Linked DNA regions of Homo sapiens: region 1 is linked to region 2. The links come from fine-mapping of genetic effects on gene expression. A gene starts in region 2. The other region holds a variant in brackets. All regions are shown on one strand. Distances are between the middles of the regions.

Region 1 (5,174 bases), 35 kb before region 2:
CCTGAAGGTCAGAGGGAGGGGAGGAAAATACCTTCTTGATGCACCAGAAATCACCTTATAAACCTCATCCTCCGTGGAGCACAGTGGCTCACACCTGTAATCTCAGCACTTTGGGAGGCTGAGGAGAGAGGATCATTTGAGGCTAGGGGTTTGAGACCAAGCTGGGCCAAATAGTGAGACCTTGTCTCTACAAAAAAATTTTAAAAATGTGCTGGGCATGGTGGTGCGTGCCTGTAGTCCCAGCTTGAGCCCAGGAAGTTGTGGCTTCAGTGAGCTGTGATCACCCCACTGCACTCTAGCCTGGGCCAAAGCACGAGACCCTGTCTCTTAAAAAAAAATTGTCTTTATTAAAATGATTCTCAGTATCCTTCATGCTACTGCAGCTGATTTCCAAAGCTGCCTCATCTTCCGCGCTCTCAACTCTTAATAAACCCATCCAAAGCGCAGCTCTTCTCTTCCAGCAACTCCTTATTTTTATGTTCATATCCAAGTAAATCTTAGCCTTGTCCAGAAGCAAAAGCCCCATGACCACGACTTCAATTCTGCCTCTCTTTTCTGGCCACTGCCTCTGTGTCACCAAACCCCAGGGACAAATTGGCAAAGACAAAGGTGGCTCTGAGAGGAAAAGGGAGGGAGAAAGGGTGTGAAACCCCACACATCATAGTCTTGTTCCTGTTGAAAATGCAGGAATATAAAGCCCAGTACCAGAGCTTCCCATTATTCAGGCCTAGGCTCCTGGTTCCTGGGCTGTCTAGTGGGTGAGGGCCCAGGGCCTGGAGGTGTTTCAGGATCCTCAGGCCTGATTTGGTGGACAGGACCATGTTCAGGGGAAAATGTGGGGATAGGGCTGCATGCTTGCTCTCAGGAGACTGGGCTCTTTTTTCTGAGTGTCCCTGAGAAACCATCCTTAGGTATTGGTACTACTCACAGGGTTGTGCCTAGCTTCCTGGCTTTGGAACTTCATTCACTTCCTCCCACCCTTCCCAGCCCTTCCATTCCCCCTCCCAAAAGGCTGACACCCACTCCTCCTAGAACCCTACCATAACTCACCATCCTACAAGAGCTTCCTTCTGTTTGGGATAGAACTTCGGTGGCCTGCATGCTAGCCATGAAGCCTTACGATGGCCTTTTCCTAACCATAACAACCACTTATTTCCACTTCATTTACTTTACATTTCCCTCTCCTCATAAGATTTCAGCAAACCATATACTTATAAGTCAACTTGCACAGAATCTCCTGCTAGCTTATTTTGGTGAACACAAAACTGAATGCAAAAATCCCCATCCTTCAAAGAATTTGACATTCTAATGTCACCAATTTTTCGACATGCTAATGCCAGCAATTTTTTTTGAAAGTTGAAATAGAACATAATAAGGCAACAAAACGAGACTAAGAGGGTTCTGCACCGTGTTCCAACAATCTTCAGTCCCCTTCACTGTTCATGTCTAAGCACTGAGGCGTTCTAAAGCAGGTCACCTTTTGCCTCAAGGACTTTTCTTGAAATATCATGGTCTTGCTCTGTCGCCCAGGCTGGAGTGCAGTGGCGTGGTCACAGCTCATTGCAGCTTCGACTTCCTGGGCTGAAGCGATCCTCCCATCTCGGCCTGTCAAGTAGCTGGAACCACAGGCGCGCCACTACACCTGGCTAATTTATTTTTATTTTATTTTTTGTAGAGACGGTCTCGCCACATTGCCCAGACTGGTCTGAAAGTCTTGGGCTCAAGAGATCCTCCCGCTTCCGCCTTCCAAAGCGCTGGGATAACAGGCGTGAGCCGCTGCCCGGGCCATCCCTCGAGGAAGTTTCATCAGGTAGACATTAATTCTTTCACGAGGATCACGGATCGAGCTCTTTACTGGAAACCTGCGCCCCGCCTTAGTTCTCCACCTCTTCGTGCGGCTCCAGGCAACTGCCAACAGATGGCGCCCGCCCGCCTATTTCTCTCCTTGCGGCTTTGGGCCTGGAGGGGAGGTGGGGAGAGTCCCAATAGCAGAGGAACTGGTGAGCCCGGGCCAAAATTTCATCTGGCATCCGGAATGCATTAAAAACAACCCACAAATCTGAAGCTCCTCGCAGGAGAGAGAGAGAGAGAGAGAGAGGAGAGAGAGGAGAGAGGAGAGAGGGAGGGAAGAGAGTGACGGAGAAGGAGAGAAAGAGACGGGAGAGAGGAGAGAGAAAGAGAGAGAGAGGAGAGAGAGAAAGAACGAACGAACAGGGAACTTGTAAAACTAAGGGGAAAAGGGCAGAAGAGAGGCAGCAGCGTGGTCCCTGCAAGCGTCCGCTTTCCTGGCCAAGCAGCCCCCAGCACGCCTGCTTTGTGGGGCAGGGCCATGCGGCCCCGAGGAAGGATGCGGTGAGCCAGAGGGTTCCAGACAAAGGAGGGGATCCCCAAGGCTCTGGGCCAGCCAGTCCCTGTTTTACTGGCACCACGGTCCCTCCTAGGCGAGGACGAAGAGGGAAGGGGTGGAG[A/G]CCTCCACCTTCTCTGCGTGTGGCTGCGTCCCTTTACAGAATGACAGGCCCTTACTTCCGAGGGCGGGGACTAATGTGTAAGGCTTAACAGATCCAATTCCAGAAATTATCTGTGTTTTTTTCAATCACCCTCTTGTGCCCCCCCACCCCCCATTAAATTTCATCTTTTATCTTTTTTTGGGCCTTCGTAATGAAAAGTGGTTTTAAAGGTTGACCAGTTTTACTACTTAGTGCCTAACAGGCTGAGTGATTATACCGTTGAAGGAGGTCACAGCGGGAAGGACATGGAGAGAGATGGGGGGTCTGAGGCCTGGGGAGTGAGGTCTGGTTCCCTCTCCTCCCCTTGGAGCCAGAGGGCACCTTCGTGACTAAGAAGGGAGAGGATCTGGCCTTGTGCAGCTCTGCCCACTGAGAGGTAACACCTGTTCTCCAGCTGGGTGGCAGCTCCCTGAATCAGGCCAGTTTGTACTTTTTCACCTAACTCACATGATTTCCACTTCAGTCGCACTACCGCTGGCTGCCCCATTGTGGACAGCTTCATTAACCTCCGTTGCTCCTAAAGGCAGTCTTTTGATGGAAATGAGTGGCGGAAAAGGCTGAGAGCAACCAGGCCAGGCTCAGCCCACTTACTTACTATAGTTAGCCTCTCTGTTATGCCTCACTTACCCCAAGGACTCTCTGAGGAGTGGCCATTAGTCCTACAGCTCCTGAGTGCATATTGTGGCCAGTCCCACAAATGTGAAGTTCTCTTCTTTCCTCCGTGAGTCGTTGGGTCAAATAGAACTCTTGTTAATAGCTCACCAAGTCAGTTAAAGATTGGGAAGGTGGGCATTGTGAATTTGGGATTAAATAATGTCCAGGTGGTTAGAATGGACTTAAAGAGAAATAGAGAGGAAAAGGATCTAGTGGTCATAGTGAATCCCAAGTTGAAATGAGTCAACAGGAAGGGACAGTGATGAACAGGAAGGGACAGTGGGAAAACCCTGACAGAAATGCTTTAGCTACATCCTGTACCTTCCCACTTTTATTAGAAGATGCTTGATTTTTGTTCTAAGAAGGGAAATATGTATTCTAGGTTCAACAAGTTATAAATTCCTTAAGGGCAGACATCTTTTGCATCTCTCACCAGGTTTAAAAATTAATAATTGTGGCCAGGCGCGGTGATTCCCACCTGTAATCCCAGCATTTTGGGGGGCCGAGGTGGGCAGATCATGAGGTCAGGATTCCAAGACCAGCCTGGCCAACATGGCGAAACCCCGTCTACTAAAAATACAAAAATTAGCCTGGTGTGGTGGCGCACGCGTGTAATCCCAGCTACTCAGGAGGCTGAGGCAGGAGAATTGCTTGAACCTGGGAGGCGGAGGTTGCAGTGAGCTGAGATCACGCCATTGCACTCCAGCTCTGGGCGACAGAGCAAGACTCTGTCTCAGGGAAAAAAAAAAAAAAGAGTTTACAAGACATTTTCACACATGATAAATTTTCAGCAAATTCTTAGTGAAAGAATGAATAAGTAAATTATAGAATTAAAGTGATCTCACAAGTTCAAAGAGGTCAAATAGGAAGTCTACCATAATAATAAGCATATATTGCATGGCCTGAATTGTCAACCTTCCATGGCTGAGATCACTCACTTCTCCTCTTTATTTGCTTTCCATGTAACCACCTCTCCTTGGCTTATGTAATTTTTCTCTCCCCCTGATGAGGCAGAGTGAAGTGTTAATAGCTGGGATTTGGAGTCAGGCAAGTCCTAGGTTCGAATCCCAGTTGCTTCAGTGATCTTGACCAAATTGCTTATGTTCTGTTCTTTGTGCAGCAGTTCTGTGTCTATACAATGGTGGAGGGAGTGGGCTCTCCTGGGACAGCTATAAGGGTTAAGTAGGATGTGGAGGTGATAGAGCCTTGCAAAGTGTTCCAGGGTGGGCTGGTCATATTTCATAATATGCGGCACAGCTTAACACTTTCTGCCCATTACTTCCAATACAAATTGGTTAAAACAGGTGGTAACATGGTGGGTTGATATGTGGGACAGTTTTTAAAAAATCAGAATGGGCTGGGTGTGGTGGCTCACACCTGTAATCCCAGCACTTTGGGAGGCCTAGAGGCAGATCACGAGGTCAGGAGTTCAAGACCAGCCTCCTAACCAATATGGTGAAACCCTGTCTCTACTAAAAATACAAAAATTAGCTGACTGTGGTGGCGTACACCTGTAGTCCCAGCTACTTGGGAGGCTGAAGCAGGAGAATCGCTTGAACCCAGGAGGTTGAAGTTGCAGTGAGCCAAGATCGTGCCACTGCACTCCAGCCTGGGCGACAGAGCGAGATTCCACTTCAAAAAAAAAAAAAAAAAAAAAATCAGAATAGAAGCAGAGAAGGCATGCAGCTCCTTCTTTCCTGGAGCTGGGGCAATAGCCCAGGCTGGATCCCTGAACAAAATGTGGGCTCCGATCCTCAGAGGTTTTTCTCAGAAGGAGAGTTAATAGCCACCAGAGCAGGGAAGGTCTGTGATAGGGTTCGGGTGGCCTCTGTGATGTTCACAAGCATCCTGGCATGTGGCAGAGACCGGCTTTTCATTTGTTAAAGGAGACTCCTGGGGCACCTGCATCTCTGAGGGCAAATTACAACCCCACATATCCTAGAGGAAGATTTGTCATCCAGCCACCTGGAAAAAACACTCAGCAGTGTTGAAGACACACAAAACTACCCAGAA
Region 2 (5,174 bases):
GGAAACTGCCTCGAAGGTATTCCTGGGAGTTTTGAGCCCAGAATAAGCTAGTGTGTGAAGAGTTGAGAGCAGTACCTGGCATGGGGTGTGTGCATGGGTGACCTGGAGCCAACTCTGGAACCCCAGCTTTTTAATTCATTCTGCCTTGAATGAAGGGGCTGGCTGCACTTAGTACCTGCCTGTGGGGAGGTTACCAAGCAGCCCAGTGCTGAGGCCAGCAAGATACACTGAGGGACCCCAGAAGCACTGAGGTCAAGTCCCTGAGTCCCATGGGGCATCTCTGGGTTGGTCAGCACTGGGGTCACATTGCATGTTTGCTCAGCTTGCCCCTTCTCAGTGCCAGTAGAAGCCCATGGTGAGCCCAGATACAGGATCTGTTGACTCACGGGGAATTTGCTGCCCACAGAGGAGGGAGAAATGCACCTCCCCAAAGCCAACAATCAAAGGCCAGGCAAGCCCTGTGGGAGGAAAATAACTTGGGCTACAGATTTTCTTTTCTGGGCTTGGAGTCTTGCCATGGACAACACAGAAACAGACATGATTAGCATCATGGCTTCCGGAAACACTGTGAGTGCGCACTAGCAGGTGGTGGGCTGATGTCACTCTCAAATGGCTTTCTCGAGTCCGAGGGTCTGGCTCCCTGCCGGGCCCTGGCCCATTGCACATCAGCGCTAGGTATAAGCAGCTCAGAGAGTCACTTCAAGCTGCAGAAGACTTCTGGGGTGAGTCTTTGGAGGTTCTTGTGGAACCACAGGGGAGGTCCCCTGCTCATCCGCTACACTTCACACCTGGCCTGTGCACTCAAAGATGTCCACTGTCTTCCCCAGACTTGCTGGGAGAGAGAGCAGAACCTTGTCAGACTGGCCCACCCCAACTCCCCCCCATCCCCCTCACCTGTGCATTTCCCGTAGCATTTCCAGACGCCCAGGCTGTCCCGCACCTCCGTGACTTTGCTCAGATCCTTCCCTTGTCTAGAACTTGTTTGAAGAACTGAATGGAGATACTCAGGGCTCAGGGACACTGAGCCACAAAATAGGGGCCCATGGAAAGGTTGAAGGCATGGCTCCGCTGACACGGGAGCTCCAGAGCGAGAATGAATTCAGGGAGTTTAGGGCTGGAGTTGAAGAGGAACTAGAGCCTGGAGAGAGGGGAGGATAGAGAAAGGCTTTTTGAGAACCGCAGCAATGAGGGCTCTGCCTGAGGCTCTAGGTACTGACTCGTGGGCAGTGAGGAGAGGTAGATTTTTGTTGGGGATCCACTTGATGTATGTTTTCTTACAACTAAATGATAAAACTGAGGCTGAAACACAGGTGTTTTCTGCCTGGCCTTTTTCTAGAATGCACCTCTCTCTGAAGATTATAGAGAACTATGAAGAAAAGGAGATCGTGGGAAATATATGATTGAGTCAGTATGATTTGGAGGAAGCTCAAGTGCTTGCTGTGGTTGCAGAGAAGTGAGGGGACTTTACATTCCTGGCTGGACAGGTTGAACTCTGGGATTGGAGAGGTGGTGGGGGAGTGGAGAGGAGCAGAAGGAACAGACACAGGGAGAGACATTTCAAAGGATTGTCAACAGGGCATGATGATAACACAGGGAGAGCAAGTCCAGCCTGTCTCCTGGTGCTGCCCCGAGTTGATGACTGCAATTAAACTGCCAGACTTTACAGCCTGCTCTGCACTGTGTCCTCCTGGCATCTTGGGGACTTTTTCACGGTTGGGGCCACAGGGGAGGTTAGAAGCTGCTCGCTCTCTCCATTGCCAAGCACTGGCCGGTCAATGGAGTTGGGGAGAAGGAGGCTAATTCTCAACAGCCTGTTAGTGACAGCCATTCTCTCTCCAGCTTATCTAAAGAGGATTTTATTTCAGAAGAAGGCTGAGAGCTTGTTAGAAAGGCAAGTTCTTGGGCCCCACCCCACATATACTGAATCAGAGACCCTGGGAGTGGGACCCAGCAATCTGTCTTAATAGACCTTCTAGGAGATTCTGGCACTAAGGAAAGAGACCACAGGTCTTGTCTATCTCTGTAGTTGGCTGCGTCTGGGCCAGAGTAACTGCTTGTTGAAATGATCAGAGATCTCAAATGAGGTCATGCATGTTGGGGTGTGTGTGTGTGCATGTGTGTGTGTTGTGTATCTTTATGTGTGTATGTGTTTGGTCTAGGGTCCAGCACATAGTAGGTGTTCACTCTTGGGGGTGGGAATAATCACTCTAATGTCCGTGTTTGAGGACTGCATTGCTGGTGACCGCTGAGCCTGCAGAGGAGGAAGAGAGCAGGGCAGAAGATTCAGGAGGGGGTGCATGGCAACTTCTGATGTCACAGTGCCCCCCTTCACTCCTGACTTCTGGCTCATGGGTCACTTTGGGGCAGGGGCAAGAGGATGGTTAGCTGCAGCAAAGAGAGAGCCAAAGAGAAGTGGGATTGAGAGCACAGGGGACAGCTGGAGACAAAATATAAACGCCGGGCAGGGGAACAGCCAAGATAGTGCAGGAAGGATGGGGAATCACAGAAACTTCTCAGGTAACAGTCTGGGCCAGAACACTGGGTGTCCCCAGAGAGGGAAGTCGAGGGTGAAAGTGAAAAGGCTCACACTCAACTTCCAGGAGAAGGTCAGGTCCTTCATCAAAGAATAATCCTGCCATTAAAGGGTCCCCAGAGTCCCCAGCATTACTTCCCTTAAGTGGATCCCAATCCTGGTCACCCAATCCCCTCAGGACTTTGTAAAACGTACTGATGCCCAACCCTTGCCAACAAGCTCGTCCCATTCCTAGGATTCTGATTTACTTTGTCTGCAGAGGGCTTGAGCTCAGGTATGTCTATAATGACAGCCAGGTGATTCTATTGTACACTCAGGGCTGACCACTCTACTTAAGCAAAACACACACACACAAAATATACCCCCGTTCCCCCCCATCCCCTGGGGGTGATGGGTTGGGGATGAGGGTGATGATGTTCCCACAGATGCATTACCTCTCCACAGAGCTCAGGACCAAAGGAATGTTTAGCCAGAACTGGTAAATACCTTTAAAAAATTATTAAGCACCTATAGAAACCTATAGGGACAAAGGTGACTAAGAGGATTTTTACAAAACAATAATAATCAAGTCACTTATTTAAAAATAATTAATCATGCTTGTAATCCCACCACTTAAGGAGGCTGAGGCAGGAGGATTGTTTGAGGCCGAGAACTCAAGACCAGCCTAGGCAACATAGCAAGACCCCGTTTCTACAAAAATAAAAATAAAAATAAATTAGCTGGGCATTGGTGTGCACCTGTAGTCCCAGCTACTCTGGAGGCTGAGGCAGGAGGGCCCCTTGAGTCCAGGTGTGTGTCTGTATTGAGTGTGTGTCTGTGTGAGCCCAGGAGTTTGAGGCTGCAGTGAGCCATGATCGTGCCACTGCACTCCAGCCTGGGTGTCAGTGAGACTGTCTCTATAAAAGTAAAAATTAAAAAAAGTAATTTAGAACAAGGAATAAAAGACACCAGTGAATGAAACAAAAAATTAGTAAGAAACCTTGCGATCCATGAATGCACCTTGGTGTAGATAGGGGTGGGGAGAAGAGAACAGAAGAGACTCGTTTCTGCAGATGAGGCAGCCCTTCCCTTCTCCCCATCTGGGTGGAAGCTGGCCCAGCGCCCAGGCTCCCACCCCAGGCAGTGTTTCTGGAGGCCTGAGCCCGAAGCCCACTGTTTGTGCTGGAAGCTCTTGCTTTACACTTGTTTGAGCTACATTGAGTCAGTATGAGAGAGGCAGATAGGTGACGCAGGTTAAGAACATGGGCAGCCGAGTCCCTGGGTTCAAATCCAGACTCTGTCACTTGTCAGTTCACCCACTGGCCTGGGTCAGGGAGCTGACCTGGGTCCCAGGTCGCAGGCTTCCTCCAGGCTTCCTGGTAGGCTCTGCCCTCCCTCCCCCTCCCTTTCCCTCCCTCTCCCTCCCTTTCTCTCCCTCCTTCAGGGATGTCTTCTAAGTGCTTACCACTTGTGCAGGGCACAAAGAGGGTTTCCCCACCAGCTGTAGAATGCTCAGGCCCTGTAACAACTGGATCTGCCCCCAGGTGCAGCAACTCTAGGATCCTCTGTTGCCCTCCTGCTGCTACCACCCTCAGGGGTCTGGAGTCCTCACGATGCGCGCTGCATGTCCTCCCCACGGTGGATGGCCAGGCTCCCTCCCCCTCTTCCCTGACCACAGCAAGAGCCCCTTGGCTGCCATATTGGAAGGCGTTAGCATGCGTGTCTGTGCATGTGTAGGCATATGTGTCTCCGTGTTTGTGATATGACTGTGTGTTTGTGTGTTTTGTGTGTTGTGTGTATCTTTGTGCGTGTGTGTCTGTGTTGTATGAATGTCTTGGTGTGTATCTCTGTGCTGGTGTATGTGTGTCTGTGTGTTGGTGTGTGTGTTTGTACCTAAGTGTCTTTGTTGTGTGTGTTTGTGTTGGTGTGTCTGGTATTGGTGTGGGTCTGTGTTGTGTGTGTCTGTGTTTGTATGTCTGGTGTTGATGTGTATCTCCGTTATGTGTGTCTGTGTGTTGGTGTGTCTGGTACTGGTGTATGTCTGTGTTGGTGTGTGTTGTGTGTGTGTGTTGGTGTGTGTGTTATGTGTGTCTGTGTTGGTGTGTCTGGTGTTGGTATGTGTCTGTGTTGTGCATGTCTGTGTTGTGTGTGTCTGTGTGTTGGTGTGTCTGGTGTTGGTGTGTGTTTGTGTTGGTGTGTGTGTTGTGTGTGTTGGTGTGTGTCTGTTGTGTGTGTCTGTGTGTTGGTGTGTGTCTGTTGGTGTGTCTGTGTTGGTATGTGTGTTGTGTGTCTGTGTGTTGGTGTGTGTGTGTTGGTGTGTCTGTGTTTGTATCTGTGTGTTGGTGTGTCTGTGTGTTGGTGTGTGTCTGTGTTGTGTGTGTCTGTATTGGTGTGTGTCTGTGTTGGTGTGTGTCTGTGTTATGTGTGTCTGTGTGTTGGTGTGTGTCTGTGTTGTGTGTGTCTGTATTGCGTGTGTCTGTGTGTTGGTGTGTCTGTTGGTGTGTGTGTCTGTGTGTTGGTGTGTGTGTGTGTTGCACCCACTTGCACTTTCTTGAACCCTGCTTGATGTCTGTGCCTCTGTTCCCGTATCCCTGCTGGTTCCTTTCTGTGCTGGCTGTCAGCAGAGCTGCGAGTGTGGATGCCAGGCTGGAGTGAGTGAAAG

The links. PIP is the estimated chance that this variant, and not a neighbour inherited with it, causes the effect.
Region 1: its variant is fine-mapped to the expression of CDRT4 in visceral fat (GTEx, PIP above 0.99). The same link has a PIP of 0.9 or more in unexposed skin.

The regions. Positions count from the first base shown.
Region 1 is chr17:15,499,734-15,504,907 of GRCh38, reverse strand. All of the region lies in intron 4 of TVP23C-CDRT4 (TVP23C-CDRT4 readthrough), which reads left to right. It also overlaps a transcript of TVP23C not described here. Among named protein-coding and RNA genes, the nearest start is that of CDRT3, 31 kb to the right of the region's middle. The variant A/G (reference allele first, on the strand shown) is at 2,469.
Region 2 is chr17:15,464,803-15,469,976 of GRCh38, reverse strand. CDRT4 (CMT1A duplicated region transcript 4) reads left to right here and starts at 2,356. Exons shown (of 4, transcript NM_001204477.2): 1 at 2,356-2,517. All of the region lies in intron 4 of TVP23C-CDRT4 (TVP23C-CDRT4 readthrough), which reads left to right.